7 linked regions of the Homo sapiens genome follow. The protein of the gene in region 3 interacts with the protein of the main gene of each other region in a pairwise test. Each region holds a gene or a part of one and is shown on either strand. Other genes may lie near its edges. The genes, in order: CDX4, CRX, BANP, TOX4, STOX1, PSMD9 and SH3RF2.

Region 1 (4,452 bases), on a different chromosome or scaffold from region 3:
CCACTATGTACTAAGCATATAAATGGGTGCATTTTGGTCCTGAGTGGGTGGCCTAGTGAGGTGATCAGCTTAATTTTTTTCGTGGGGTTTATAACCTGATGTCCCTTGAAAGGGCTTCAATGGATCCATGAATCTCCTAAAATTATGTAACAAATTACTTGTGTTTGTGTGTGTGCTGCTGTGCCTTTGTGCATTTTTTCTAGGGAGATAACCAAAGTTTTTCATCATATTCTTAAATTGCTGCTAAATATGCACCTTAGACTATAAGAATACAGCAAAAGGGTTATTTTCATTTATAAGACATTAAAATGAAACGAAGTTTTAATTTAATGAAGCCTCATCTATAGAATAGGCTGCCAAAAATCGAAATGGTTCCAATATCATTCCATTTTAAACTTCTCATAGAAATTGGATAGAAAATCTTGTGACGGTGCCATTGTAAAGTCAGGTTTGAGGGTTTAGCTCAAAGATGCAAGAGACTAAGGAGCCCGTTTCGAAACCTTTCCTGGCATTAGAATTGCCCAAGAGAGAGACTCAGGCTAATAAAAGCAAATGTAAACGGAAGACCTTTAAGCAGATAAAACTGTCATATTTTTCCTCATAAATAGAAAATTCAAGGCTGGAGATAATTTCTTTTATCTCATCCATTTCCTCTCTTGTTCTCTATTGCAAACAGCACGCCAGTGACTTTCCTCTTAATGTGTTTCAAAACATAATCCTAGACTGCGAGCAACTACTTTTCTAGCTTTTGTGTCTTTTGCTGATTGTTAGGGTTTAGTGAGTGGATGTTAATTACAACCCCGAGATTAGATGTAATAAAAACTCTGGGAGTGCCCCACCCTAACCTCTTTTTCTATTCTACTTAGTCGACAGACTCACTCATATTTTTTTAAAATGCAGATTTACTTGCAAACGCTTTAAAGCCAAGTATTTCAACTCTACTTTTACCTTGGGATCGCTACTCTAGTGAGGTTCTAATACACAGAACTTCCTCTTCCTGGCTAAAAGTTCTCCTAATGGTAAAAATGGGTCACTTCCCACCCTCCTGTCTTTGCTTTTTGGAGGAAAGACAAAGTGCAGAACTGAGAACAGGAGCATAATCATTGCGGACAAATGCTATTGAAATGCCATTTCCTCCCCAGAGGGATGAAAATACTCAGAGTCGATTTTTACTAATTTTCTCTAATGACAGGGAGCGAGGGTTGGAATAATAAGAATGTAATAAAAGAACAACAGTTGAAAACAAACATTCCTCCCCCAGCCCCGGTTAAGATTAAAGTGGAACGGCCACTTCCCTCGCCCTGGCTCCCAGCAGTCGCCCACTGGCTTGCTGGTTAGGCTGTGATCGCGATCGCTTTGACTTCTCTCGCGCTGCCGCAGACCTGCATTCAGCCCCCACGCCTGAGAGACGCCTGCTTTGATAGTTATGAGGGCTTTAGCCATTTATTAGTGCTGGAGCTGATTCGTTTGCGTGTCGGGCGGGTGTGAGGGTTAGGTACCGTATTATGTACCAGGTCAGTGCTGTAGCCTTCTCGCCTGCCTCAACACTTGGGTTAGAAGAAAGGACGTTGTAAGATGGCAATGGATTTTAGGCCAATTTGCCTCTGCCAACTTGTAGGAAGGAAGCTGGAGCTTCCCTGAGAGGCCAGGGTGAAGAGGTTGCTTTGCCGTCGGGGACTTAGTGGCTAAACTGGAGGGTCCGTTGCCAGCCAAGCACTGTGAACCTAAATTGAGCATCACCAGCTTTGGGGGCGGGGAGGGGGGAGACAGCCCGCTCAGATGGGTAAGGGTTTGGAAATGGAACAGTCAAGCAGCAGTGCCTGAACAACGGGACACTACAGCTGCCCTCTCGCTTCATTCACCCGTTGAGCTTTCTCATGCATCTCTTTTCCCATGTGGGCAACTACAGGGTTGCATCCTGATCCTTGTGGCTTAACATACCCATTGTCCACTCACTCGCTTTCTTCATGGAGCAGCGAAAGGCGAAAATCACCTCTAGGGTAGGTTTAGTCCCAATCGCTGCACTCAGTGAGTGAGTTTTGAGCCCAGGCGAATGCGAGGGAGATGCCTAATAGGCCAGCCAGCCATATAGGGGTCGCCTCAGCTAAGCCCTCTTGGGAGAGGCCTGAGAAGTACGAGGGCAGGCCGACCAAGAGAAGTAGCGGAGAAGGGAAGGAAGGAAAAGTGTGTGGGCATTGGAATTGATTACTCACCCGTCACCTGCACCGTCTTGCGCATCCATGCATAGGGGCTGTGGCGGCTCCTGCTGGGGGAACTGGCCTTGGCGGCGCCTGCGTCCGTCGGGACAAGCGACCCGCCAGCCTGGCCTGGTAGGCTGCTGCCGCTAGTTCCACCGCCCACAGGGCCCAAGTTGCTGTAGTCGGTCGAGCAGAAAGCGGCGGGGCTAGAGGTCACGTCGTTCACCGGCACTGTGCCCATTGTACTAGACGGCCCAGGATACACGCTCCAGTCTTCTCGCGGGGGACTGTAGGGTGAGCCCCAGACTCCCAGAGACGGCCAGTGAGGATCCATGCTGGGCATATGAGGATACCCCATATAGTGCGAGAAAGCCGGTGCCGCAGCGAAATTGGAGGCTGGCATCGGACTCCCACCGCCCCCTGTGCCGCCTGTCCCAGCTGTGCCGTCGCCCCCAGGGCTCATGAGAGTGCCCGGGTACATGCCTGCTTCTTTCTCCAAAAGACAGCTTCCGTACATCGTGTCTTGGGTAGAAGGCGCTCCCTAAGCCATCCTGAAGTCCCTGTAAGGCCCCAACTCGACTTTGAGAAGCAGCAGAGAATAAACTTATCAGTACGTAGTTGTGCCGCAAGCTCTTTTGCACCCCTCAGGCTACTCCATCCCACGTTTCTTACGAGGGTATCCAGGTGACTAGCAGCCCTGTATAGATAGGCCACCAATGGCTGGGCTGACGTCAAGGGGCTTCAGGCTTTTACATAGCATTTGCATTCAAATGAAGGGCCATTTCACTTTCACAGGAACTTGTTCACCCACTCCCCAAGCTCCCAGGCCTTTCTGTCTCATCTTTCTTGATTCTGTCCATCTGGTCCCCATAGCGTCAGTATTGTGCTTTTGGGGACAGGAACTCCTCCAGGGATTTCTGACCAGCTCCCCTCAAAGTCAGATAGAGACCTGCAGAAACCGGGCAAAGTTCCGCTCTCTAGGATTCAGTCCTTACACCGCGGCCTCCTCCCTTTCACCGATCTTCCCGCGTCCAACCTGCATCTGCAGTCTCCTTCTGCCCAATTCCCTCGCAGGGGTTTACTGCATGGCACTGGCCCAGGATGCCAATGAAAAGAGCTTTCCCTTACTCTCCTTACTCCCTCCATCAAGAGGACGCCTTTGTTTCCAAGGGCAAAGATTCATTTCACAACTCTCTGTTGAGCGTCTACTGTGTGCCAGGTACTGTGTAGGCATGGGGATACAGCAGTGAATAAAAGACAAAAATTCTTGCTCTGCCTTCCTAAGATTACACTGTAGTGGATGGCAGGCTGAATTAATAGAACGTTGTTTACAAATATGCACAAATTAAAGAAAGATGAGTAACGTAGGTTATGCAAAATGGTAGGAGAGAGAGAGAACCATGTGGATAATAAACTTTCCTATTTTCATGTCAATCCACTACTCTCAGGTGTCTCCTTCTGCCAGGTATGGCTTCTGTCTGAAATCCAGTGCCTCAAGGGGCCAGAACTCTTGCAGTCTCAAATCCATGGCAGCTGCAGCAAACTAAAAAAGTTTTCTTTGTAAAACTCCAATTGTTGAAAAAGACATAGACTTGCTAGTAGATGCCAATGAAATCAGTATCTTGCCTCAAGAAACCAGGTCTCCTCTTGTGTTCCTCCTCTCCACCCAGCACCCCCAAGACCTACCACAGCCTTTACTCCAGGCTGCTTCCTACTCAGGAAATGTGCTCCTACACAAAATCCAACATAACCTGGCACCCCCACCCCCTTTTAGCTAATCCATCTATGGCTTTGGGAAAGTCACTTAACCTCTCTGAGTTTCACGGGTTTTCCCTTTTAAAAATAGAGAACCTAATGGTATCTACCTTACAAGCAGGATTTCCTCAGATAATGCAAGCAAACTGCTTAACTTAGTGCTTGGCACACAGTATGGGACCACTGTATTCACTCAGCAAATATTTATTGAGTACTTAGTGCTGTTCTATGTATGGAGACATCAGTGGTGAGCAGATAAAGCCTCCGGCTTTATTAAGCATATATCATAGTGGGGAGAAACACTGATAAGTAATTAAATTTTATGGTATATCAGACAGTAATCAACTCTATGGAGAAAAAAAAAAGCAGGGAAGGAATATACGGAATGCTGGGAGGTGGACGTCACAATTTTAAATGTGATAGTCTAGGATGACTTCACAGATAATTGACATTTAACTAAAATATGAAAGAGTTAATGGAGTGAGGTAAGAGGACAGAG
Region 2 (2,968 bases), on a different chromosome or scaffold from region 3:
ATTTTCTAAAGGTGAGACACTGGTGGAACTGGGGTAGCTGCTTGGGACGTACCACCTATAGTTGTGGCTATTTCACAGAGAAGCAGCAGCTAGACAGACTCCCATCTGTAAATAAACAAGAGATAGGAAGAGGGGGAAATAGATTTGGAGGAGGCAGCCCTACATTTCAAACATACATTCCCTTTTTTAGATTTTTTTTTTTTTTTTTTTGGTTTTCAGTTTTGATGGTGGGATTGGAAAATAGAGCTTGGCTTGAGGACATTTTCCTGGGGTGGCACCATTATTTCTTGAAATAGAATCTTACTTATGGTGACACTGGCAAGCACTTGTGAGAACCTGAAGACGGATTGAGGTCATTTGATGCTCAGAAGTTGGGTGCTGGGTCCCTGCCTTCTCAGTCCGAGTTCTCCTTTCATTTTTGGGTGGGGAGGCGGGTTCCAAGAGCCCTTCATTGGTGGAGTTCACAAGGCAAGGTGTAAAAAAAAAAGTAGGGCAGGAAGACAGTGGTGTGCTGGCAGAGGTCTAACAATGGGCTCTCCAAGGAAGAGGAAAAGGTTGGTTGTGGAGTGTTTGTCAGTTTCCGTGGTGTAAATACTCCCACCACGGCTGACTTCAAGCTAGCAACCGGAGGTCACTGAACTAAGAGTTGGGAAGAGATAGGGCACAATATATGCTTACGAGTTGGTACACACCGTCAGCAGCAGCCAGGGTCAGGAGAAAGGCGAGATGTGAAGAGAGGCCGGGAGGTATCAGATGACGTTTCCAGCACTAGACCAGAAGAGGTGCACACAGCCTAGACCCCCTGAGGGGTACACCCTGATCTCTAGAGCCCACAAAGAGGTTTTTATTCAACATAAAACGTGTTCATCTCTCATAGGCCTGAGTCATGCTGGGTTCTGGGACATTAAGCCCAGGAGTGGGCCGGGTGCGGTGGCTCACGCCTGTAATCCCAGCACTTTGGGAGGCCGAGGCGGGTGGATCACCTGAGGTCAGGAGTTCGAGACCAGCCTGGCCAACATGGTGAAACCCTGTCTCTACTAATAATACAAAAATTAGCCGGGCATGGTGGCACGCGCCTGTAATCCCAGCTACTCGGGAGGCTGAGGCAGGAGAATTGCTGGAACCCGGGAGGCGGAGGTTGAAGAGAGCAGAGATTGTGCCACTGTGCTCTAGCCTGGGTCACAAGAGCGAAACTCCGTCTCAATAATAACAACAACAAAAATAACCCAGGAGTGGCTCAAGAGTCCAGTGTGGGATGAAAATATAAACAGAGGAAGACAACATATGTCACTGGGGAGGCTGGGGGAGCTAGACAAAATTCACACGGGAGGGGCAGGGATGAGACAATATTGTGCCCTGGGTCTGTGCAAACGTTGGGACCAGAATCCACTATAAGTTTCATTCTTCGGAGACACGGAAGCTCTGCACTGGAGGCCGGGACTCAGGCGTGGAAGAGAATCTTCTCCTTATTCACCGGGGAGGCTGTGTCTTGTGCAAACAAGTCATAGAAACTTGATGGGAGTTGGGGAGGGACTGAAGGATGCATGCAAGGTTCTGGGAAGGAGTGAGAAGTAGTGAAGGCCAAGGGGCCCCCATCACAGGCCGATGGGGTAAGACTTCGAGAGAGCCTGATCCTGGGGTCTTCTGAGACTCCACCAGGAGCCGGAGAGGGCAGGGAGCCAAATCCAGCTAGGAGGTTACAGATTGCTTTTCCTGGGCTGGGCTCCTGAGTGTTGGTTCTTCCAGCTGTGCACAGGGGATTTCAAACGTTCTACGTCCTAAAGCCAGGAAGAGTGACAAGGCAGGTGGGGACAGAAGGAAGAAGCCAGGAGCCTCCCTGAGAAGGTGTCACCTTATCTGTCCTCCTCTTCCCCACACACTGGCCTCTGGGTCCCCCTTCTCTGTCCACCCACAGAGTGAAACCAATTAAAATGTTGGATCTCATTTAAAGTCTGGGTGATTCTTTAGTTTCCGTGTTTTCTCCAGGAGGGGCAGGTAGAAACAGGAACTACTCTGTTCCTTCTGTCTGTGGGGCCTGGGTCCCTCCATGTGTTTCCTGTCTCATCACCCTCCTTTCCTTGACATCTCTCTAAAGCCAATTTATGAAGGATCAGGGGCTGGGTGCAGTGGCTCACGCATGTAATCCAGTGCTCTGAGAAGCTGAGGAGGGAAGATTGATTAAGGCCAGGAGTTTGAGACCAGCCCAGGCAACATAGCGAGATCTCTGTCTCTACAAAAAATTAAAAAAATCAACCGGGTGTGGTGATGTGTGCCTGTGGTCCCAGCTACTCGGGAGGCTGAGATGAGAGGATCGGTTGAGCCCAGGAGTTTGAGGCTGCAGGGAGCTATGATTGCACCACTGCACTCCAGCCTGGGTGATGCAACAAGAGACCCTGTCTCCAAAAACAAAAAATAAAAAAAAAAAAAAAAGAAGGAGGAGGAGGAACAGGGGTCCCCAGGGCCAGCCCCAGCCCCACCCATCTGTAACCTTCCAATGCCCCTCCCGAAAAAACAGGGGGGTGACGAGAATGCTCCCTGCCTCAGTGGCAGGATGTGAAGCTTAACGCCAGCATTTAGAGCCACGCGCAGCCTCTGGCCCGCCTTCCCTCTCAGCATCCAGCCTTCTGCAGCTTCAGCTCTTCCACCCCTTTGCTTTCCATCTCTTCCCCCGGATGCTTTTCAGTTTCTCAATCTCACCCTTGCTCTGTCATCTCTTCTCCTCTCTCTCTTTCCATTCTTCCTCTTGCCTTTCAGACTCCCAGCTCCTCATTTCATTTGGATGGATTTTCACCTTTTTCTTTCTTTCCTTCCCTCTTGTCTCTTTTTCTTTGCTGCTTACTTTTTTCTGACTTTCTTTCTTTCTTTCTTTTTTTTTTTGAGACAGGGTCTCCCTCTCTCACCCAGGCTCAAGTGCAGCAGCGTGATCTTGAATCCCTCCAGCCTCTGCCTCTTGGGTTCAAGCGATCCT
Region 3 (4,024 bases):
GTTTGAAAAATAATGCACTCAAAATAAGACCAATGTCAGTTTCTAGGGACTCAGAGTTCAAGAACATGAGGGAACGTGGCACAAACGACCAAGGACCACCACCTAACATGACCTACACCACAAAGAGGAGAGCCAGAAATTGTAAGACAACAGGCCAATTATTGCAAACTGTGTTTGCCCACTGACAGTCACAACTGTTGGCTGGGAAACAGGGCACCCAGCCTTCTAAAAACACTTAGGGTGTGAACTTTCTCAATCTCAGGGACGCATTTCGGCAGAAAACGCAGACTGGCAGCGGCAGCACTCTGCTCAGGGACCCACCGCCAGCTCCCACCGACACAAGAGCTGAGCTCACTTGAGGACACGTAGCGGCAGGGGTTGTCCGCATCCTGGCCACCAGCGCCCACAGAGCTTGCAGCATGCCATGATGACAGCAGGGACCGTGGCCCAATTCCCCCCGCGTCATCTGGTGAAAGGTGAAGGCGTTCTGCCATATTTACGGGAAGCGCATTCACACCGGCAAGGAAATGCCAAGCGCGCACCCAGTTCTCCCTCCCGGCTCCATCCAAACGCGTTTCTACTTTCAGAAAGATTAAGCTTTGCTTCCAGATATTTGATGACTTTTCATCTCAAGGGAAAAGGAAAATCACTACAGGCCACAACGGCCTTCTCTCAGACACAGAAGGTAACTGGTCACTAGCGAAAGGTTTGTCAGCGCAGGGCCCTGCGGCAGGCCTCCGTGAGCTTGCCTCAAAACCGCCCCAGGTCTCCTGACAGGACTCCACACCAGCCCACCCGGTCCACACAGGATCCGGTCTCAACCACGACAGAATGTGGACACAGACGAGCAGAGGGGAGGTGACTGCAGCCAATACACACCCCCGATCCATTCTGCCCAGCCTTCCTCAGGTGTTTCACTGCAGCCTCCTCTCAGCCTTTCACCTCCTCAGCCGCCTCTGCTCCATGTGTCCTTCCACAGCTCCCACGCTGTAAGCTGGCGACCTGTGGGTTCCGAATGGAGCACCGCGCCATCCTCCACCACCACTGACCCCTTCCCCAGAGAGACACCTCCCATGGGAGCAGCGAGTCGTGGAGTCTGCTCCACCGTGAACGCTGACGATCCAGAATGTTTAATCAAATTGGACGGTTCTTGACGAAGTGTAGACGCGAAGGATTGCAGAGTGGTTCTTTCCAACAGGAATCAAGTTCATGTGACTTCACAGTATCTCGGCACACCATCTGCTGGCAGCTTAGGAGTTAACACTTCCTGCACATTTTAACCAAAGACACTCACAGGATTCTGCCACGGAGGCCCCGGGGTGCTCCTCTCTCTGAGACTTACGGCACCCCTGAGAGGGGGCTTCTGGGACAGCACTTCATCCTCTGCACGGGGGTCAGGATGGAGGGTGGCGGAGAGTGTTTCTCTACTTCCTGAGGATGGAGACATCGTCTCTTCCAAAGGGGGGGCCAGAGTGGAGTCTTGTACAACAGACAAAGGGAGTCCCAGGCGAGCCCACCGGGACGTGCAGAGGCGGAAACCTGAGCTTGTCTACGACTACAACCAAAGCAGGCTGAGCTTGCCTATGATTACAACCAAAGCAGGCGGCTCTGCAGGCTGGGAAGGCCACGTACCAATCACTCGCCCCATTCTTCTCCTGCAGGGGCTGAAGGGCCCCAGGTGCAGCTGAGAACAAAACAAGTGTAGCTTTTTCAGAGCAAATTGCAAGTGTGTGATTCCACCCAATACTGTTTTCAACTTCCTGAAACTCCTCCCCACGGCCCCCAGGCCCCCAAAGTTCCGGATGGTTCAGAGCACTTCTGCTGACCAAGTCAGATGATGTCATGCTTTCACCACCGTCACCCGTGTGAAGAGAAAATACAGATGTTTATCTACCTCAGGCACAGGGAGGACCTTCTAAAGCTTTCATCTCATTCTCATTCAAACCCTCAAATTGACTTTCCCCAAGAAGTCTTTCCTTCAAAATGAGGAAATGTTTAGTTTCTCTAGATTGCAGTGGCTAAACTGGTGCTGTGAGTTACAGTCATTTTCAAGTCAGCCTTGCGACTCCATGTCATGTCAATCACTTAATCGTGTAACTGGAGTTTTTGGGATTTGTACAGTATCACTGCAGACGAGGAACCCAAAGGCTAACAATCCTGACGGGGGAGCTGCAAGACCACTGAGGCCCACTGCCCAGCACCTGTGCCTGGAGCCCCCAAACCCCTACTCCCTCACCTCCCTCAAGGTTGTGGGAAGGCCTTCCGTGTGGACCAGGGTGCACACACATCACCTGGCCACCTGCCTGCAGGAAATTCTGAGCCTCCCTGTCTTTCAAGACCTGGACACTTGAGACGCACTGGCCAGGACTGTGGTGAGCATCCCTCAGTTTGGGTGCAGCATTTTCTCATGATGAGACTGCATTTCTGGCAACACTGCCAGAGAAGTGATGTGTCTCACTGGGTCCTTGGTGTCAACGTCTTATGACTGATGGTGTTACCCCGATCACTTGCTTCACACAGTATCTGCTGGGTTTTTCCACCGAGAGGCTACAGTTTTATTTTTCCCTTTGTGACGTGTATCTTGGGGGAGATACTTTGTGACTATGTAAATATCACAGACAGAAGGACATTAAGGAGACAGGGCGGCCACACGCACCAGTGTGGGGTCCCGGAGGGGATCCCGAAACAGCAAGAGGACACTGGTGCAAAACCGAAGTTCGAATAAGGTCTGTCATTTACGCAATAATGCTGTGAACTTTCTGGCGTTTATATGGATGCCTGGTTACATAAGACGTCAACATCAGGGGAAGCAGATGAAGACAACAGGGAAGCTCAGTGAAATATTTTTTGCATCTTTTCTGTAAAGTCAAAAACTATCTGAAAATTAAAAGCTGACCAAGCTGCAGTCTGATTCTGCACGAGAACCTGGGTAGGGCCTGAAAGTGTGCGTTTCTCACAAATACCCAAGTGATGCTGATGGACACAGCTGGCCCCTGGACGCTCGGCTGGCAAGGCTCTGGCAGACAGAGCCCACCGCACTACACACAACCTCCCAGTGACAGTCAGCCACCATGCAGAAAGATCATGCTCCCAGTACGCTCACCACTGCTTCACTGCAGGCCCTCCTGGACCCCAGCAGGGCAGACGGCCCGCTTGGCACACTGACCCAGCGAGGAGCCAAAGTCAGGGTCTTTGCTACCACACGGGTCTGCCGGGCCTTGCCCAGGTACGCTGGCAGCCCTCCAAGGCCACAGGGCCAGAGCCACCAGCCCACGCTGCAATTCAGAGGCGGCTGTGGAACGGCGGCTTGGCACCTCACCCCGTTGACTGTGGGCAATTACCAAGGCCACAAGGAAGCAGGAAGGTGGAGTGAATAGAACAGGCTTGCAAATTCCTGCTCAAGGGGAGTGACTGGCCGTACGGGTGACCTCCTCTCACTCCATTAACATCATCTTTAATAGGGTGTTATCAACCCACAAGAAAGAACACACTCCTGACAGATGCAGAGGACCCGATCAGGGCAGAGGGAAAGCACCGGGGGCACAGGCGTGGGGCTCCAAGCCTCGCAGAGCCCTGCGGGCAGGCCAAACCCGCACCTGCCAAGTCGGTCCCGCACAGGAGAGCTAACTCCCCCACGGCCAGCAAAGGGGCCTTCCTAAAGAAGCGGAACAGCCCAGAGAAAATATCTGCAAGTTGGTGCTCCAGGTCCCACGGTGACAGGCTCCCAATCACCCGAGGGGAAACTGGACTCTTTCAAAAGCACCCCACAGACCCGGGGCTCTCCGCCAGCTTCCTCCTGCCTCAGACAACAGTAAACATCAGTATGGAGGACTTGCCATAAAGAGGAAGAAGCCAACACTTTTTTTAAGTGACATTAGTGGAAACAAGAAATCAGAACAAAGGAGAGCTGGGAAGAATCCTTATTAGTTTCCTTAGAGTCATGGAGATGAGGCACTTGTGTAACAATAAGCTACTATGAAAAAGAAACAAGACAAATACATGCTTGGACATTAAAAATTTGATT
Region 4 (4,024 bases), on a different chromosome or scaffold from region 3:
TTGGCACCAGCCTGACCAACACGGTGAAACCCTGTCTCTACTAAAAATACAACATTAGCTGGGTGTGGCGGCACATGCCGGTAATCCCAGCTACTTGGGAGGCTGAGGCAGGAGAATCACTTGAACCCAGGAGGTGGAAGTTGCAGTAAGCTGAGATTGCACCACTGCACTGCAGCCTGGGTAACAGGAGCGAAATTCCATCTCAAAAACAAACAAACAAGTAATTCTAAATCCAAACTTGGTAGTGGATTTGAGAGTTAGCCACAGCATGCAGCTTATCAAGTAATAGCCTAATTTTATAAATGGGGGAAAAAATGAGACTTAGAAAAGTTAAATATCTAAAAATTGAACAGAAGGACACTACATGAGGAATTATAGGAGACATTATTAGTGGAAAGTACATGGGAAGAGTTAAAGAACCTGGATTGTGTCTCAACTTTACCACTTAAATGTTATATGACCTTAACTGGGCAGTGGGCTCCAGTTTCCACCTTAAAAGCGGGAAATGGTAGCTATTTTTGAGAGTTATTGTAAAGATGCAGTACTTCTGTAACAATTATTATTATTTTTTGAGATGGAGTTTCACTCTTGTTGCCCAGGCTGGAGTGCAATGGCATGATCTCGGCTCACCGCAACCTCTGCCTCCCGGGTTCAAGCAATTCTCCTGCCTCAGCCGCCTGAGTAGCTGGGATTTGAGGCATGCCACCACACCCGGCTAATTTTTTTGTATTTTTAGTAGAGTCGGGGTTTCAATGTCAGCCAGGATGGTGTTGATCTCCTGACTTCGTAATCCGCCTGCCTCGGCTTCCCAAAGTGCTGGGATTAACAGGCGTGAGCCACCGCGCCCGGCCTATAACAATTATTATTTATTTATTTGAGCCGGGGTCTTGCTCTGTCACCCAGGCTGGAGTGCAGTGACACAAACATGGCTCACTGCAGCCTTTATATCCTGAACTCAAGCAATCCTCCCGCCTCAGCCTCCACAGCTGGGACCAAAGGCACATGCCACCACACCCAGCTAATTTTCTGTGAGACGGGGGTCTCCCTATGTTGCCCAGGATGGTCTCGAACTCATGGGCTCAAGCAATCCTCCTGCCCTGGCCTCCCAAAGTGCTGGGATTAAAAGCATGAGCCACCACACTCAGCCTATTAATAATTTTTAAATAGGCCGGGCGCAGTGGCTCATGCCTGTAATCCCAGCACTTTGGGAGGCCGAGGCGGGTGGATCACGAGGTCAGGAGATCGAGACCATCCTGGCTGACATGGTGAAACGCCGTCTCTACTAAAAATACAAAAACAAAATTAGCCCAGTGTGGTGGAAGCGCCTGCAGTCCCAGCTACTCGGGAGGCTGAAGCAGGAGAATGGCGTGAACCCAGGAGGCGGAGCTTGCAGTGAGCTGAGATCACGGCACTGCACTCCAGCCTGGGTGACAGAGCGAGACTCTGTCTCAAAAAAAAAAAATTTAAATAGGTTTTCTGGAGTGAGTGTATGGCTGCAACTTCGAAGACAAGGGATGATATTTAAGTGTCATTAACAAACAGCTGATATTAGATAAGGACATGTAAGAAAAAAGAAAACCTCAATTTTTATCTCTTTAAAAACTTCTGGAACATTCACTACTAGTTCCTCAATATTTGCTCACCTGTTTTTGCTCCTCTCCAAGACTATCCCACATGGAGGCCACAATTTTTGAAACCTCACCAAAAGTGGCATTAGGATTCTGTCCCTTGATGGCAGCCTGTGTATCACGAAAGAATAAAGCATATGCTGAAACTGGTTTCTGAGGTTCATTAGGATCTTTCTTTTTTCTCTTCTTTGGGGCCTTCTGCTTTTTCCCTGCTTCCACCACGACTGTCTTCTGGCTGGGAAGTTGCTGTAGGAGAGAAAAAAGAGAGAATTACACAATGGACAATGACAAGTATTATGTCTGGAAACTAGCCACATGTATGGAATTTTCAGAAATGCTAAAAATCATAGAAATAGCATTAAAAGACATTAGTCAAATATGGAGAACCAATAAGAATAGGGATTGAGAGGAGAATTATAAACTGGAAATTGGGAGGTGGAACCCCATACCCAGAAAACAGCAGAGGAGATGGCACGGCAAGGGTAAAGAATACTGATTAGGCTCTGTATCCCAAAAATTTTATCCCAGACTATCACAGCAGAATTGATTTTGACAGGGAATGCCTCACCCTCCGGAAATCCTCAACACCATCCTCGTGAAGTGAACTAGTAGGTGAAGGGGTGGTTGAAAGACGATCTTCAGGTGACTGGGCAGGTGGCAGGATGGTGCCACCCCCTAGGCTCAAACCCAGCTGGGAACTCAGTTCTGACTGATCAATGGTGGTCAACTGGCTATGCCCCATCAAGCCAGATGTCATGTCTGTCATTGGTACATCAATTGTAACAGGTGGGTTGGCACTATACTGAGTTCCTATAGAGTGGTCCAAGTCCTGAGAGAAGCAGAAGGACTAATTAAACACTAAATATAAAAAAAACCACTTTTCCCCCCTAAATTTAAGACAGCTTATAAATTCCCTGCCTACCCAAATTGTATCATTTAAAATACAAAACATAAAATAGTCTTCAAAAATGAAAATAAAAAAATAAGCTTTTTAAAAAAGTACAGAAATTAATGAATTTACTTCTTTGCACTCAAAAGAAGAACTAAAAATAATCAGAGAAGTCGCACTGTTGGACAAGTCAAAGAGCTATCAACTTATTCAGTAATATATAGGTAGTGACAACACATTGAGTAAAGAAAAACTTCCTATCTGTACTCTCCCAAAATAATAGCTTTTAAAATTGTAATACATAGGCAATCAGCATAAATAAGGCCAATATTAAAGTCTGGCATCAAATATAGAGTATGAAGATGTGCTTACTGGTTCGATGTGCTGGAAGCCCAATATACTGATTTATATTACATACTAATCCACAATACTATATTTGGCTCAGACTTTTTTTTTTTTTTTAAGCTCTGTTCTGCTGGCTGCTCAACGTGATTCAGGCCATTTTTGAATAAATCCCTCCGTGTGCCAGCTATCACATTCAAATTTGAATCCTAGGATGTGAAGGCCATAATAAAAGCAGAAAACACTTTTTCCCAAAAACCACAATAAATAATTTTCAAACCAGACATTGTACAATTTTAAATTATTTTTCAAGTAAAATCTACCTACATGGTAAATTTCATTTATTCAGGTGAAATTAAGTCTTTGTTGGTGAGCCTTTAGCCACAAGAAGAGAAACAAGTAATACCCAAGTGTAGCAGGGAATAGAGTAACTTTGTCTCCCCTAATGCCATGCCCATTAGCTGGGGTAAGCCTGACAATGTCTTGCCCCTTACCATGGTCAAGCCCCCACTCAGGAGCCCCCCGCCCTGCTCCATCAAGCCATGGGTCATGCCCACAGGCATGTCCAATGTCTGGACCCCATACTGGGCTGAAAAACTGCCATCCTGTGAAGAGGAAGGGTCTGCCAGGTCATCAAAGTGGCCAACCACATCTGAGACAGCCAATGAGGGATCAGAATCCAAGGAGATAGGTGGGATTTCAAATTCCTCATCACCCAAGCTTGGTGTATGGAATGTCTGTAGGGGAAAAAAGGGGGAAAAGAATTAGTGAAAAGAGGAGAAATGGCATACTACTAAGTGAAGAACATAATGGGGTACTAGAGATTCTCAGGATGCATTTTTTCTGCTTAGGATCCTATTTTATAATCAATTTCTTAGAACCTATTATTTTTACCAATCTCTCTTCTGATACCCTTGGTCATTTGGTACATTCAAGGCTGCTAACATCAGTCACAATTTTCAATTCTTTTATCTCTTTTCTACCATTACCGTCTCTTTTGTCTTAAATTATGCCTATGGTTCTAATGAAAAATTCTTTCAGTACCATTACTTAGGACATAGCCTTTATAACCTGTTTACTATGATTCTTGAAATCTCTCTCTAAAGATTCTAATAGAGCAGTTATTTCACAATTATTACATCTAAACTGTTAGGTCACAGAAATT
Region 5 (4,246 bases), on a different chromosome or scaffold from region 3:
CCGCCCACCTCGGCCTCCCAAAGTGCTGGGATTACAGGCATGAGCCACCGCGCCTGGCCCCTTCCTCTTCTTTTAACATGTTGTATTTTCAAATGGGTTTTTTTCTCAAGGAGCCCTCCCGCTGGGCCTCAGTCTGGGTCCTCAGTCTGAATCGGCCTTCACTGCTTTGAGGCACAGGTCACATTCTACCGCCACGCATCACAAGCTCTCCCTTTGCCTCTGGGGCAGGACGGTGTCCGTCTTTTCAGAATGTCCACATCTAACCCAGGGCAGAATCCTACGATATCACCACAGCGCCACACCAATCAGGGTGGCACCTCTCCACTCTGCTTTCCTCAGCACTCAAGAGTATGGGATATCCCCGGGGTAGGACCAGATCCTACAACTTCAGAAAGTCATGGATGAGGCCGGCCGGGCGCCGTGGCTCACGCCTGTAATCCCAGAACTTTGGGAGGCGGAGGCGGGCGGATCACGAGGTCAGGAGATCGAGACCATCCTGGCTAACACCATGAAACCCCGTCTCTACTAAAAATACAAAAAATTAGCCGGGCGTGGTGGCGGGCACCTGTAGTCCCAGCTGCTCGGGAGGCTGAGGCAGGAGAATGACGTGAACCAGGTAAGCGGACCGTGCAGTGAGCCGAGATCGCGCCACTGCACTCCAGCCTGGGCGACAGAGTGAGACTCCGCCTCAAAAAAAAAAAAAAAGAAAGTCATGGATGAAAGGGTCCTTAGTTTATTATCCTGTGAAATAGTAGCTGGGACATTTCTGAGGCCCAGAGAAGGGAAATAACTTGAATGAACAGGTTGGGAGCAGGCCAGGCGATGTGGCGGGCACCTGTAGTCCCAACTCGGGAGGCTGAGATCAGAGGATCGCTTGAGCCCAGAACTCAGTGAATAGCCACTGCACTCCAGCCTGGGCAACACAGCGAGACCTCGACTCAAAAAACAAAAATAGAAACAAACAACTAGCTTAGGCGCAGAACTGAGACTCAAACCTAGGTTTCCTGCTCAACCCCCACACCTCCCAGGCCCCCGCTGACACCCTCAGGCTGTTCCTCGTGGTTGCTAACTTGGAACGGCCCCAAAGCCAGGTCGAAGGCGAGTCTCCCCGCCCTGGGGACTCCTGGCGCTGCAGTTCGCACGGCGGATGGACGCAGTCAGGTTCTCCAGGGAGCTGCGAGGAGCCCCAGGACTTGGAAAAACCCCAGAGCGCGCCCCTGGGGGAAGGGGAGCTCGGGACCTCGAGGCGGCTGGAAGTCGAGGGCATCGCCAGGGGGCCGAGTTGGGCCCGGGTGTGGAGAACGAAGCCGAACGCTGGGCTCTGGATTCTCCTCCAGAGCGCTCCGCCGGCCTAAGCACGGCCGCCCCACCCCCGGCCCGCCAGGCGCAGTCGGCCCCGCCCCCTGGAGCTCCGTTCCCCCGGCAGCCAGCGCCGCGGACCCGCGCGCAGTCGGCCGATCCTCCCGCCGAGCGAGCGGCGTCGTAGCCGCCGCGCTCGCCGAGGCCCTGCGTTGCGGGCTCCCGGCCGCCGGCGAAAGCATGGCCCGGCCCGTGCAGCTGGCGCCGGGCTCGCTGGCGCTAGTGCTGTGCCGGCTGGAGGCGCAGAAGGCGGCGGGGGCCGCGGAGGAGCCTGGTGGGCGCGCGGTGTTCCGCGCTTTCCGTCGCGCCAACGCGCGCTGCTTCTGGAACGCGCGGCTGGCGCGCGCCGCCTCGCGGCTGGCCTTCCAGGGCTGGCTGCGGCGGGGGGTGCTGCTGGTGCGCGCGCCCCCCGCCTGCCTGCAGGTGCTGCGCGATGCCTGGCGGCGCCGGGCCCTGCGGCCGCCGCGCGGCTTCCGCATCAGGGCGGTGGGTGAGTGCGGGACCCGGAGGGGAGGGGCGTCCCGGCCCGTGCAGCTGGCGCCGGGCTCGCTGGCGCTAGTGCTGTGCCGGCTGGAGGCGCAGAAGGCGGCGGGGGCCGCGGAGGAGCCTGGTGGGCGCGCGGTGTTCCGCGCTTTCCGTCGCGCCAACGCGCGCTGCTTCTGGAACGCGCGGCTGGCGCGCGCCGCCTCGCGGCTGGCCTTCCAGGGCTGGCTGCGGCGGGGGGTGCTGCTGGTGCGCGCGCCCCCCGCCTGCCTGCAGGTGCTGCGCGATGCCTGGCGGCGCCGGGCCCTGCGGCCGCCGCGCGGCTTCCGCATCAGGGCGGTGGGTGAGTGCGGGACCCGGAGGGGAGGGGCGTCCCGCGCCAGCTGTGAGCGCGGAGCTCCGCGCTGCAGGGGCGAGCGCGGCCCCGTCTTCTGCCACAGAGGCTAGGCGCTGCTCTGAGGGCCCGGGGGCTGCGGTTGGGCGGCCGGTCCGGGGGGCCAAGACGCCCCGGAGACGTTCCCTCCCGCTAGGACACTGCAGCTATAGTCCCCAAGGTGTGCCTGGCCGCTGCTAGTACTGGCTCCGGGCTGAGTCCGTTCCTCAACTCTTAAAGCCCGTGGAGTGCACAGAAGGAACTTTCTGCTTAGAAAAGTGATGCTCTGGATAGAGAGGCTTTGGGCTAGGGGCCACTGTCTAGGCTCCACCGGGGCGGTTAGGAAGGGTACCCCAGGGGAATGGCCAGAGTTTACCATATCTGGCAGCTTTATTATTATTATTTTTTGAACTACAGATCTGCAGCGAACGGCATTCTGGTTTTCATGTTCTGCAGTGTGGTGGTCTTGGGTCGGGACCTAGCAGCTTTGGGGTCGTTAACTTCTTGGGGAAAACAAGTAGCGTCTCATCCCTTTAGCTGAATAGACAGGATTCCACCTTCCCAGTCTTTTCAAACTTAACTGTTTGTTAGACAACAGCAGCTTTTTGCCTTTTTTCATAAAATAGCTTCTCATTTGAGAAACTAAACCACCGCACCCGTGAGTGGTCTCTGACTCTGGGCACTAAACCCAGGCAGGTGTGTCAGCTCCCTGTAACAACCTTGTTCTTGTCTGCATTTATGTGAGGCTGCAAGGGCCATTTGATGGTGTGTTGACAAGTCACCAGTTGTTCCGCGCTTAATTTTCATTCTTACCAAGGAACCCCTCTGTATTAGTCCATAAATCATCCTCTTCCATCCGAGGAGAAGGAGTCGCAAATAAAAAACATTTGTTTGGCCAGGCGCGGTGGCGCTCGCCTGTAATCCCAGCACTTTGAGAGGCCGAGGCAAGTGGATCACCTGAGTTCAGGAGTTAGAGACCAGCCTGGCTAACATGCTGAAACCCCTCAGGAGTTCAAGACCAGTCTGGCTAATACGGTGAAACCCCGCTTCTACTAAAAATACAAAAATTAGCCGGGGCGTGGTGGCAGGTTCCTGTAATCCCAGATACTTGGGAGGCTGAGGCAGGAGAATCGCTTGAATCCAGGAGGTGGTGGTTGCAGTGAGCCGACATCAGGCCATTGCACTCCAGCCTGGGTGACAAGAGCGAAACTCCGTCTCAAAAGGAAAAAGAAGAAGAAAGAAAAGAAAAAAAGCACTTATTTAATTTCCAGGGATTTGAAAACAGGGCAGCAAGAAGCAAGCACCTGACCCACCGATAACTGTATCATCCATTCAGAGATGGTATTACCACATCCCAGCAGCCAGTGCTTTAAACCTTCACTTCTCACCTCCATGCTGTCTGTTCCCTCTCCTCCCCACCCCGCCCCCGTTTTTCTTAAGCTCAAAAAAGAGCTCTTTGCAAAACCACATATACACATTTCCTCTCCTTTTACTTGCAGGAGTGAAGAAAATAGGTTTCTGGCTCTGAGAGCAGTGAGCCAAGTAGCCAAGCCAAAATCCTCACGAGCGAAGAGGTCTTTCAGACAGGCTCGATGAAAAACTCTTTTCAGTTCTGCATCCTCAGTTTTTCTGGTTTGAATTAGTGGTTACATTCTCAGGTCCCCCCTTTCAAAGGGTGAGCACAGAGTATATTGCAGAGAGGGAGTGGGATGCAGGGTGGGGGGTCTAGACCTGGGGGCGAAATAAGAGAGGGCTTGTGCTAAGTCACGGGCTGCCACTAATGCCCCAGTGAGCAGTGGTAAATGCTGGTGTCTGTGTTGGTGCTGTTTGCTGCCATCTGAAATATGTATCACACGTCACCTGTTGCTCCCATTCTCTTCTGCCCAGTGGGTAATGCTGCCTCATAGCACAACTCAGGATGCAGTGGACACTATGACCCCATCTGTGGGGTGTGCAACGCAGTGGACTTCCGCCGGCTCATCACCCTTGACTTGGGTCTCCTGGCAGGAATGATTTTGAGGTTTTCAAATT
Region 6 (4,024 bases), on a different chromosome or scaffold from region 3:
GCAGTAGATGGGGTAGTGAATGATAGGGAGCTTCTGTGTAACTTACAGACTTGTGACCATTAAAGAAGACTGGTAGGACCAGGGTTTAGGACCCCATTCCACCTGGCAGGAACTATGTGTCCTGACCAGGGTTTAGGACCCCATTCCACCTGGCAGGAACTATGTGTCCTGACCAGGGTTTAGGACCCCATTCCACCTGGCAGGAACTATGTGTCCTGACATAAGTTACTTCAGGTCTGCAAGGCTTTTCCTCGAGGATGAAATGAGTAAAGATTAGGACCTATCCCAGAAGTGGCTGTGGAATTAAATTTAACTACATCTCCACAAAAAAACTGTACAAGAATGTTCGCAGCAACATGCTTCGTAATAGCCAAAAAGTGGTAACAATTCAAATGTCCATTAACTGACAAATGGATAAATAAAATATGATATATCCAGGCAGTGGAATATTATTTGGCCATAAAAAGGAATGAAGGGCCAGGCACAGTGGCTCACGCCTGTAATCCCAGCACTTTGGGAGGCTGAGGCGGGCGGATCACGAGGTCAGGAGATCGAGACCACCCTGGCTAACAAAGTGAAACCCTGTCTCTACTAAAAATACAAAAAATAAAAATTAGCTGGACGTGATGGCAGGCGCCTGTAGTCCCAGCTACTCGGGAGGATGAGGCAGGAGAATGGCGTGAACCTGGGAGGCGGAGCTTGCAGTGAGCCGAGATCGTGCCACTGCACTCCAGCCTGGGCGACAGAGCGAGACTCCGTCTCAAAAAAAAAAAAAAAAAAAAAAAAAAAGAAGGAATGAAGGGCCAGGCATGACAGCTCATGCCTGTAATTCTAGCACTTTGGGAGGCCGAGGAAGAAGGATCGCTTGAGGCCAGGAGTTCAAGACCAGCCTGGGCAACATAGTGAGAACCCATCTCTAAAAAAAAAAGGAAATAAAAAATTAACCAGGCATGGTTACATGTGCCTACAGTCCTAGCTGCTTGGGAGGCTGAGACAGGAGGATCACTTGACTCTGCGAGTTTGAGGTTGCAGTGAGCTATGATGGCACCATGGCACTGAAGTCTGGGTGAGAGAGTGAGACCCTGTCTGTAAACAAATGAAGCACTGATCCATGCTCAATACAGATGACTTGAAAATTTGCTAAGTGAAAGAAGCCAGTCATAAAAGGTCACATATTATATGATTCAACTTATAGGAAATATCCAGAATAGACAAATACATAGAGACAGAAAGTAGATAACTGGGTGCGGGGAGCTGGGGGATTGGGAAGTGATGGCAAATCACTACAGAGTTTCTTTACAAGACAATGACAATGTTCTGAAATTGATTATGGCTGGGCATGGTGGCTCATGCCTATAATCCCAGCATTTTGGGAGGCCAAGGTGGTAGAATCACTTGAGCCCAGGAGATGGAGACCAACCTACGCAACAGAGCGAAACCCCATCTCCTTTTTTTTTTTTTTTTTTTTTTAGACAGAGTCTCACTCTGTCGCCCAGGCTCTGGAGTGTAGTGGCACGATCTCCGCTCACTGCAACCTCCACCTCCTGGGTTCAGGCGATTCTCCTGCCTCAGCCTCCCGAGTAGCTGGGATTACAGGCACATGTCACCACACCCGGCTAATGTTTGTATTTTTAGTAGAGATGGGGTTTCGCCATGTTGGCCAGGCTGGTCTTGAACTCCTGACATAAGGTGATCGCCCACCTAAGCCTCCCAAAGTGCTGGGATTACAGGCGTGAGCCACTGCACCTGGCTGCAAATTTTTTAAATAGAAAGAAAATTGATTGTGGTAATGCATGGCTCTGTGAATACACCAAAAGACACTAAACTGTATACGGACTTTAAATGGGTAAATTTTTTTTTTTTTTTTGAGACGGAGTCTCACTCTGTTGCCCAGGCTGGAGTGCAGTGGCATGATTTTCGTATTTTTAGTAGAGACGGGGTTTCGCCATGTTGGCCAGGTTGGTCTCGAACTCCTGACCTCAAGTGATCCACTGGCCTCGGCCTCCCAACATGCTGGGATTACAGGCGTGAGCCAATGCTCCCGGTCAAAAAAAAATTTTTTTTAAGACAAGGTCTCACTCTGTCACCCAGGCTGGAGTGCAGTGGCACAGTCACAGCTCACTGCAACTTCGACTTCCTGAGCCCAAGTGATCCTCCCATCTCAGCTTTCCAAGTCGCCTCAGCCTTCTCAAGTGCTGGGATTACACGCATGAGCCACTGTGCCCAGCCTAATGTTTTTTTTAAGACACCACATAAGATGCATAACTCATTTGGCAAGATGCCATTCTCATTTTCATCATTCAGTGCCCAGCTAAAATGAGCCCCAAGAAGAGATCCTCTCCCTCTCTTGGGACATTTATCATCTTCTGTCACTGGGAAGAGGTCACTCCCCCACCAATGTAGTGGGCAGCCGGGGCTGACCCCTCTCTAAAACTCTGCCCCCAGCACAGGGCTGGATACACGACAGGCCTCAGTCAGTGTTTGTTAAATGAGTAACTGAACTCAGCACCGCAGCACGGAGAGAACTAGTCTGTCTTTCCACATCCCCGAAGGCTACCTGACCCACCGTGTCCCCTGGGCATGGACTTGAGTGGCCAACCCCTGGATTACCGCGATGCTGGCTGGGGAGCCGGGGCTGATGCTGTTCACTTTGGCGAAGGCCCGTGGAGGGCCCTGGCTCTCACTCTGACCCAGTTTGCGGCTCATGGCCTCTTTGTGGGCCTCAGCCATGTCCCGGGCCTGCTTCTCCTTGTCGCGAGCGTGCAGCTGGTGCAGGGCCTCCTCCACCTGCTTCATCACTGCCTTGTGATCATTCTGCAGGCCTGGGATGAGAACCACACATCAGGGGCCAAGGAAGACAGTGGAGGACACAAGACTCCTACATTTATTCACTGAAGAGTTAACAAGTGCTTATTACATGCCAGATGTGGAGCTAGAGGTGAGAAGGAGTCTCTGACCAAGACAGAGGACATTCCCTCATGGAGCATTCAGTCCTGCAAGGAGCAGCTCCAGAATAAGTAATTACAATAACATCTGATGACTGCAGGGAGGCCTGGCCAGCAGCAAAGTCTGCCCTCGCTAGTCTAGGATATGAGGGAAGGCTTCCTGAAGGCAGTGCTGTCTCGGGTGAGCCCTGAGAGGTGAGCAGAAGGAAGGTAACAACCAGCTGAATCCACAGCCATGAACTCAAAGGCATATGTATGAGGGGCCAGCGCTGTGATCATGTGAATGAATGACTCAGGCTGGGTGTAATCAAGATTTCACTTTTCTCTGAAATCCTCTAGAAGGAAAAATGCTGCATAAGCCGGGCACAGAGGCTCACGCCTGTAATCCCAGCACTGTGGGAGGCCGAGGCAGGCAGATCACGAGGTCAAGAGATCGCGACCACCTTGCCAACATGGTGAAACCCCGTCTCTACTAAAAAATACAAAAATTAGGCCGAGCGTGGTGGCTCAGGCCTGTAATCCCAGAACTTTGGGAAGTCAAGGTGGCCGGATCACGAGGTCAGGAGATGGAGACCATCCTGGCTAACACGGTGAAACCCCGTCTCTACTAAAAATACAAAAATTAGCCGGGCATGATGGCAGGCGCCTGTAGTCCCAGCTACTCGGGAGGCTGAGGCAGGAGATTGGCGTGAACCAGGGAGGCGGAGATTGCAGTGAGCCGAGATCGCGCCACTGCACTCTAGCCTGGGCAACAGAGCAAGACTCCGTCTCAAAAACAAAACAAAACAAAACAAAAACAAAAATTAGCTGGGCGTGGTGGCGGGTGCCTGTAATCCCAGCTACTTGGGAGGCTGAAGCAGGAGAATTACTTGAACCCAGGAGGTGGAGGTTGCAGTGAGCCGAGATCGCACCACTGCCCTCCAGCCTGGCGACAAAGCAAGAATTCGTCTCAAAAAAAAAAAAAAAAAGTGCTGCATAAGCCTAGTAATCCTGGAGACATTCAGTCCAGGAGAGGGAGTCCACAGGGAGGTGGCCAAAGGGCACCCCTGCTACAGGGCTCTTGCCAATTGGCTGGGTTT
Region 7 (4,024 bases), on a different chromosome or scaffold from region 3:
GGAATAACGTGTGGGAGGGTCTTGCAGGACTGCTTCCTTACTCAGGAGTGAGGAGTGGCTTGTGATACGCATTTGGAACAACTTTCCGAAATTTTCCTTCTAAGAGCTACCACTTCCTGGGTTCACTGCATCTTTAAACCACCCATGGCGCATGTGTAAACATTCAACAATGAGGGTGGGAAGAAGCAGGACATTTTTTCACTGTACACCCTTGATTTCTTCACTGTAGGCTTTTTATTGCCATTGTGCTTGTAAGTGACACATTCCAGAAAAGGGTTTGGAACTCTTTTTAAGTCCCTCCACTACCCCTGGTCTAGTCATCAATCAGAATCCACAGGTCTGGAAATGGCGAAGTAGGGGTGGGGAAGCAAATTGTTCTCAAACATGCCTTGTTTGTAGAGAAAAGAGCTCTATCTCTGGGTCAGCAAATCCCCCTTGAATTCCTAAGACCTAGCAACCTCTTCCCTTCCCCACCTTGCAGAAGTCTGACCTGCCTTTCAGCGGAGTATCATCACTTACTCAGGAAACGGTGTCACACTGGGAGGAGGCAGTTCCCTTATCAGCTTGGAATATTTTTGTTGTGGTTTACATCTTTCTCAATGTGACTGTGTTGCAAAGGACAGGTAGCGATGAATGGATCCACAGCTACCAAGTTTTTGAACTATAGAGGATTCTCAGGGCCCTTCTGGCACAGGGAATTGAGGTGAGAGCTGGTTGTACATAAGAGACAGCCATTAAGATACTGGGTCTCTCTGGAATTCTTTTGCAGGGACTTATAACATCAGACTATCGTCTGTGCCCACCCTCCAAGCTGCTCTGGACCAAGTCCTGTGGTGAGGCTGAAACTCAAGGGCTCCTGTGTTCAGGCAGGACCTGGGCTAGAAAGATGCTCTGCAAGAGAGCAGAGCTGGCACCCCCACTTCCCAATTCCTTTATGTCCTAACTATCCTTTCTTGAAGTGACTCCTCTCATTCCTTTTGCCTTCCTCAGTGGGGATATGAACAAACCTATTTCTGGATGTCAATATGGCTGCTGTTCTGCAACGTGCCTCTGCTCCCAAAAATATTACCTATCTTTTTTGCAACCATGAAAGCAACCATGCATCCCACAGTTAAGAGAACTGAGGGTTGTCTGGATGCCACAGTCTGTTTAGAGAGTCAGAGGAATGGACTTACATCCTCGGTCAAATCCTCCTGAGTTCCTTGCCCTCTCTGCCACAGTTCAGCCAATCTAGTCAAAAGCTACTTGCTACCCACCTTCCTCCAGGATAGTGTGAAAATTATCTTTGCAACATACTTTTACTGCCTTAGAAAACATCTGCTATGTAAATGCAAAGCATCATCATTAAGATTCATTTAGACATGCTGTATGACTTTGGGCAAGCCACTTATGTTTGCTGGGTCTCAATTTAAAATTCTGTAAAATGGGAAGATGTCATGTATAAAAACAGACAGCTACTGTGAGGTTTAACTAATTAGTATCTCCAAAACACTTTGAGAGCCTTAGATGAAAGACATTTGGAAGATCATTATCACAGTGAACATTATTATTGACTGTTTATTGTGCCCTGCCACACATGAGGCATGCTACAAAATGTAGAAGGAGTTACAGCCCTTGCAGGAGAGTGTAATAGGTATTATTATTGAACTTGATTCTATGATGAGCTCAGGCCAGGATAATACTAAGTATAAAGTACTCCACTCAGAGAGCATAAATAACCTGTTGTCACAGGGCACCATTTTGTAAAACACCTCTTTCAAAGGACTTGCCGATAACCTGGCACCCTGAAAAAGTTCGTTTAACTTTCTGTCCATGAGCTTTTGAAGCCCAAAGTCTGTTCTGCTCACCTAGACTCATCTAAAAAACAAGCTCATCAAGCTCTTTTTGTTGGCTCAAAGAGGCCTGATGCTTCCTGTGCCAACCAGTGTTCTAGGGTGGAACCAATAGTCACACCTCATGGTGCCAGCCCATAGAGAGAAAAAAATTGCCTATTGTGCCTACATGTCTAAAACCCTCCCTAGATGATTGTGTAAAAAGAAAACTTGAGAAACAGCTGTAGGTTTCTGCAGTGTGCATTTATTTCAAACCAACAGGCAAGATCACCAGACTCCTCCAGGAAGAGGTCCTGGTGGTGCAAATTCCACTGGTTCTTCTTATTCCTTCCCTAATACAGTTAAAGCAAAGGAACTTGGCAAGCCTTCAAAAGGATTGTAGGTTCCTGAATAGCTGATCTCTCTTCTTCCTCATTCTGCTACACTTTAGTAATATTTCTGATTTAGGATAGGTGGTAAAGCAGAGAAGTTATGAATCTGTGGACTTGGGTTTGAGAAATACCCAAATTCAAATCCTGACTCTGCCCCTCAACAGTTCTGCACTTTGGGTGAGTCACTTAAACCTCAGGTCCTCCAATTCCCCATCTGTAAATTGGAGATAATGGTAGTACCTACCTCAGAGGGTTGTTGTGAGAAATAAGTGAGATGATTCATGTCACTTAGCTCTTAGCACAGAGACTGGCTCATATTAAGTGCTCAGTAAATGTTAGCTGTGGTTGTTGTTGAAGTGACTCAATACTTTCTACTCTAAATTACACACACCCTTTCAGCCCCTTATTAAGCAAGTGCCATCCAGAGACGGTCCTTGGTACCCTGATTTTTGCATTGTTTTGTTTGCCTCCACATGATCCGTGGCCATGATTCAGATGTGTGATTCTTCCCAGCATGTGCTGGCTTCGCAGCTCACTTCCAGAACCCTTAAGGCACTATGATCCATTCTAGGAGAAAACTCCCTAACTAACTTCACTTTCCCCAAACAGCACCTTCAAAGGAAAACCATACACAGGGCAAGAACCTGGTCTACTTCCTCCGCATCATCAATTCTTTATTAACATTTTTATCTTTCGTTTTTTCCTGCTTCTCACTCTATTCCCCAACACAAATATTGCCATGGGTTCTGTAGGGATGGACTTTCTCCCTACCTTGCTAGCATCATGCCAGTCACACACGTTTCTGTCTTACTTGCCCCTTATCAGCAAGAACACACCTGCCACCTCCAGCACACAGACCAGGTGGCTTTGTCCTAGAAACTTTTCAGCTGGTGTTGCAAGCAACTGATGGGGAAAAAAAATGAGGTCAGAAAACATATCAGGGAATGAGGCTGGGTAGAAACCAGAAGGTGGACTAGCCCCTTTCCTGAGTCTCAGAGGTTGTGTCCTGTAATAGAGCTGTGATACAGACAGTGGGGTTTTTGCTAAATTTGCAAGGGGATTAAAATCATCCCAGGCCCCTGAAAACAGCAGATAGGTGCCATCTGGGACAGCAAGGACCATATGTAGTAGGTGGAGGAAGACATAAAGGTAGGGGCTAAGGTTGAGAAGTCAAGAGACCCAGATGGTTCTCCAGCTTCACACACATTTACAAACATTTTTAATAACCACATGGCCCCACACTGGCACTGCCTTCAATCTCTCTCAGTGTACCTCTTTTCTAGTTAGTCTCCTCTCTTTTATTGCTTACTGTAGCATTTAAGGATTTATGGTGAAGTGGGCTGTATTTGTGCCAGGATTCAATTGTTTGTTAGCTGTGTGGCCTTAGGCAAGTCACTTAACCTCTCTGATCCTCAGTTTCTAGACTTATATAATAGGAATAATAAAGGCATACTTATATCATACAGCTATTGTGAGATTAAAATGATTAAAATGAGATTAAAATGATATACATATATATAATATATATAAAGAGCTTAGCACAAGTGCCTGGCATATAACAGAAGCTAATAAATGTTAGCAACAGTAAATAACAAAAGAGTAACAATGGAAGAGAAAGTCAGCTGGCACTAGAGTTCTTTGCACACACACAGAAACATGCAGGGATCTCCATTAAAAAAAAAAAAGGAACCAAAGAGTACTGCAAAAGGAAAGGGAGTTCTCAAAAAGACAAAACTGTAGTGATGAGAAATAGGTCAGTGGTAGCCAGGGGTTATGGACTGGGGGAGGATGGGACCAAAAAGGGGCAGAATGAGGTGATAG

What was found.
Region 1: the proteins of BANP (region 3) and CDX4 interact in binary tests that used the Homo sapiens proteins (3 or more experiments, as listed by UniProt).
Region 2: the proteins of BANP (region 3) and CRX interact in binary tests that used the Homo sapiens proteins (3 or more experiments, as listed by UniProt).
Region 4: the proteins of BANP (region 3) and TOX4 interact in binary tests that used the Homo sapiens proteins (3 or more experiments, as listed by UniProt).
Region 5: the proteins of BANP (region 3) and STOX1 interact in binary tests that used the Homo sapiens proteins (3 or more experiments, as listed by UniProt).
Region 6: the proteins of BANP (region 3) and PSMD9 interact in binary tests that used the Homo sapiens proteins (3 or more experiments, as listed by UniProt).
Region 7: the proteins of BANP (region 3) and SH3RF2 interact in binary tests that used the Homo sapiens proteins (3 or more experiments, as listed by UniProt).

Annotation. Positions count from the first base shown.
Region 1 is NC_000023.11:73,445,517-73,449,968, reverse strand, and holds the start of CDX4 (homeobox protein CDX-4), read right to left. Parts: upstream 2,917-4,452; 5' UTR 2,716-2,916; coding exon 2,214-2,715; intron 1-2,213.
Region 2 is NC_000019.10:47,841,381-47,844,348, forward strand, and holds the end of CRX (cone-rod homeobox protein), read left to right. Parts: 3' UTR 1-1,944; downstream 1,945-2,968. UniProt on the Homo sapiens protein: Transcription factor that binds and transactivates the sequence 5'-TAATC[CA]-3' which is found upstream of several photoreceptor-specific genes, including the opsin genes.
Region 3 is NC_000016.10:87,954,232-87,958,255, reverse strand, and holds part of BANP (protein BANP), read right to left. Parts: intron 1-4,024. UniProt on the Homo sapiens protein: Controls V(D)J recombination during T-cell development by repressing T-cell receptor (TCR) beta enhancer function. Binds to scaffold/matrix attachment region beta (S/MARbeta), an ATC-rich DNA sequence located upstream of the TCR beta enhancer.
Region 4 is NC_000014.9:21,487,023-21,491,046, reverse strand, and holds part of TOX4 (TOX high mobility group box family member 4), read right to left. Parts: intron 3,597-4,024; coding exon 3,354-3,596; intron 2,458-3,353; coding exon 2,197-2,457; intron 1,875-2,196; coding exon 1,644-1,874; intron 1-1,643. UniProt on the Homo sapiens protein: Transcription factor that modulates cell fate reprogramming from the somatic state to the pluripotent and neuronal fate. In liver, controls the expression of hormone-regulated gluconeogenic genes such as G6PC1 and PCK1.
Region 5 is NC_000010.11:68,826,085-68,830,330, forward strand, and holds the start of STOX1 (storkhead-box protein 1), read left to right. Parts: upstream 1-1,446; 5' UTR 1,447-1,539; coding exon 1,540-1,849; intron 1,850-1,892; exon of another isoform or gene 1,893-2,185; intron 2,186-4,246.
Region 6 is NC_000012.12:121,898,432-121,902,455, reverse strand, and holds part of PSMD9 (26S proteasome non-ATPase regulatory subunit 9), read right to left. Parts: intron 2,823-4,024; coding exon 2,611-2,822; intron 1-2,610. UniProt on the Homo sapiens protein: Acts as a chaperone during the assembly of the 26S proteasome, specifically of the base subcomplex of the PA700/19S regulatory complex (RC).
Region 7 is NC_000005.10:145,939,355-145,943,378, forward strand, and holds part of SH3RF2 (E3 ubiquitin-protein ligase SH3RF2), read left to right. Parts: intron 1-4,024. UniProt on the Homo sapiens protein: Has E3 ubiquitin-protein ligase activity. Acts as an anti-apoptotic regulator of the JNK pathway by ubiquitinating and promoting the degradation of SH3RF1, a scaffold protein that is required for pro-apoptotic JNK activation.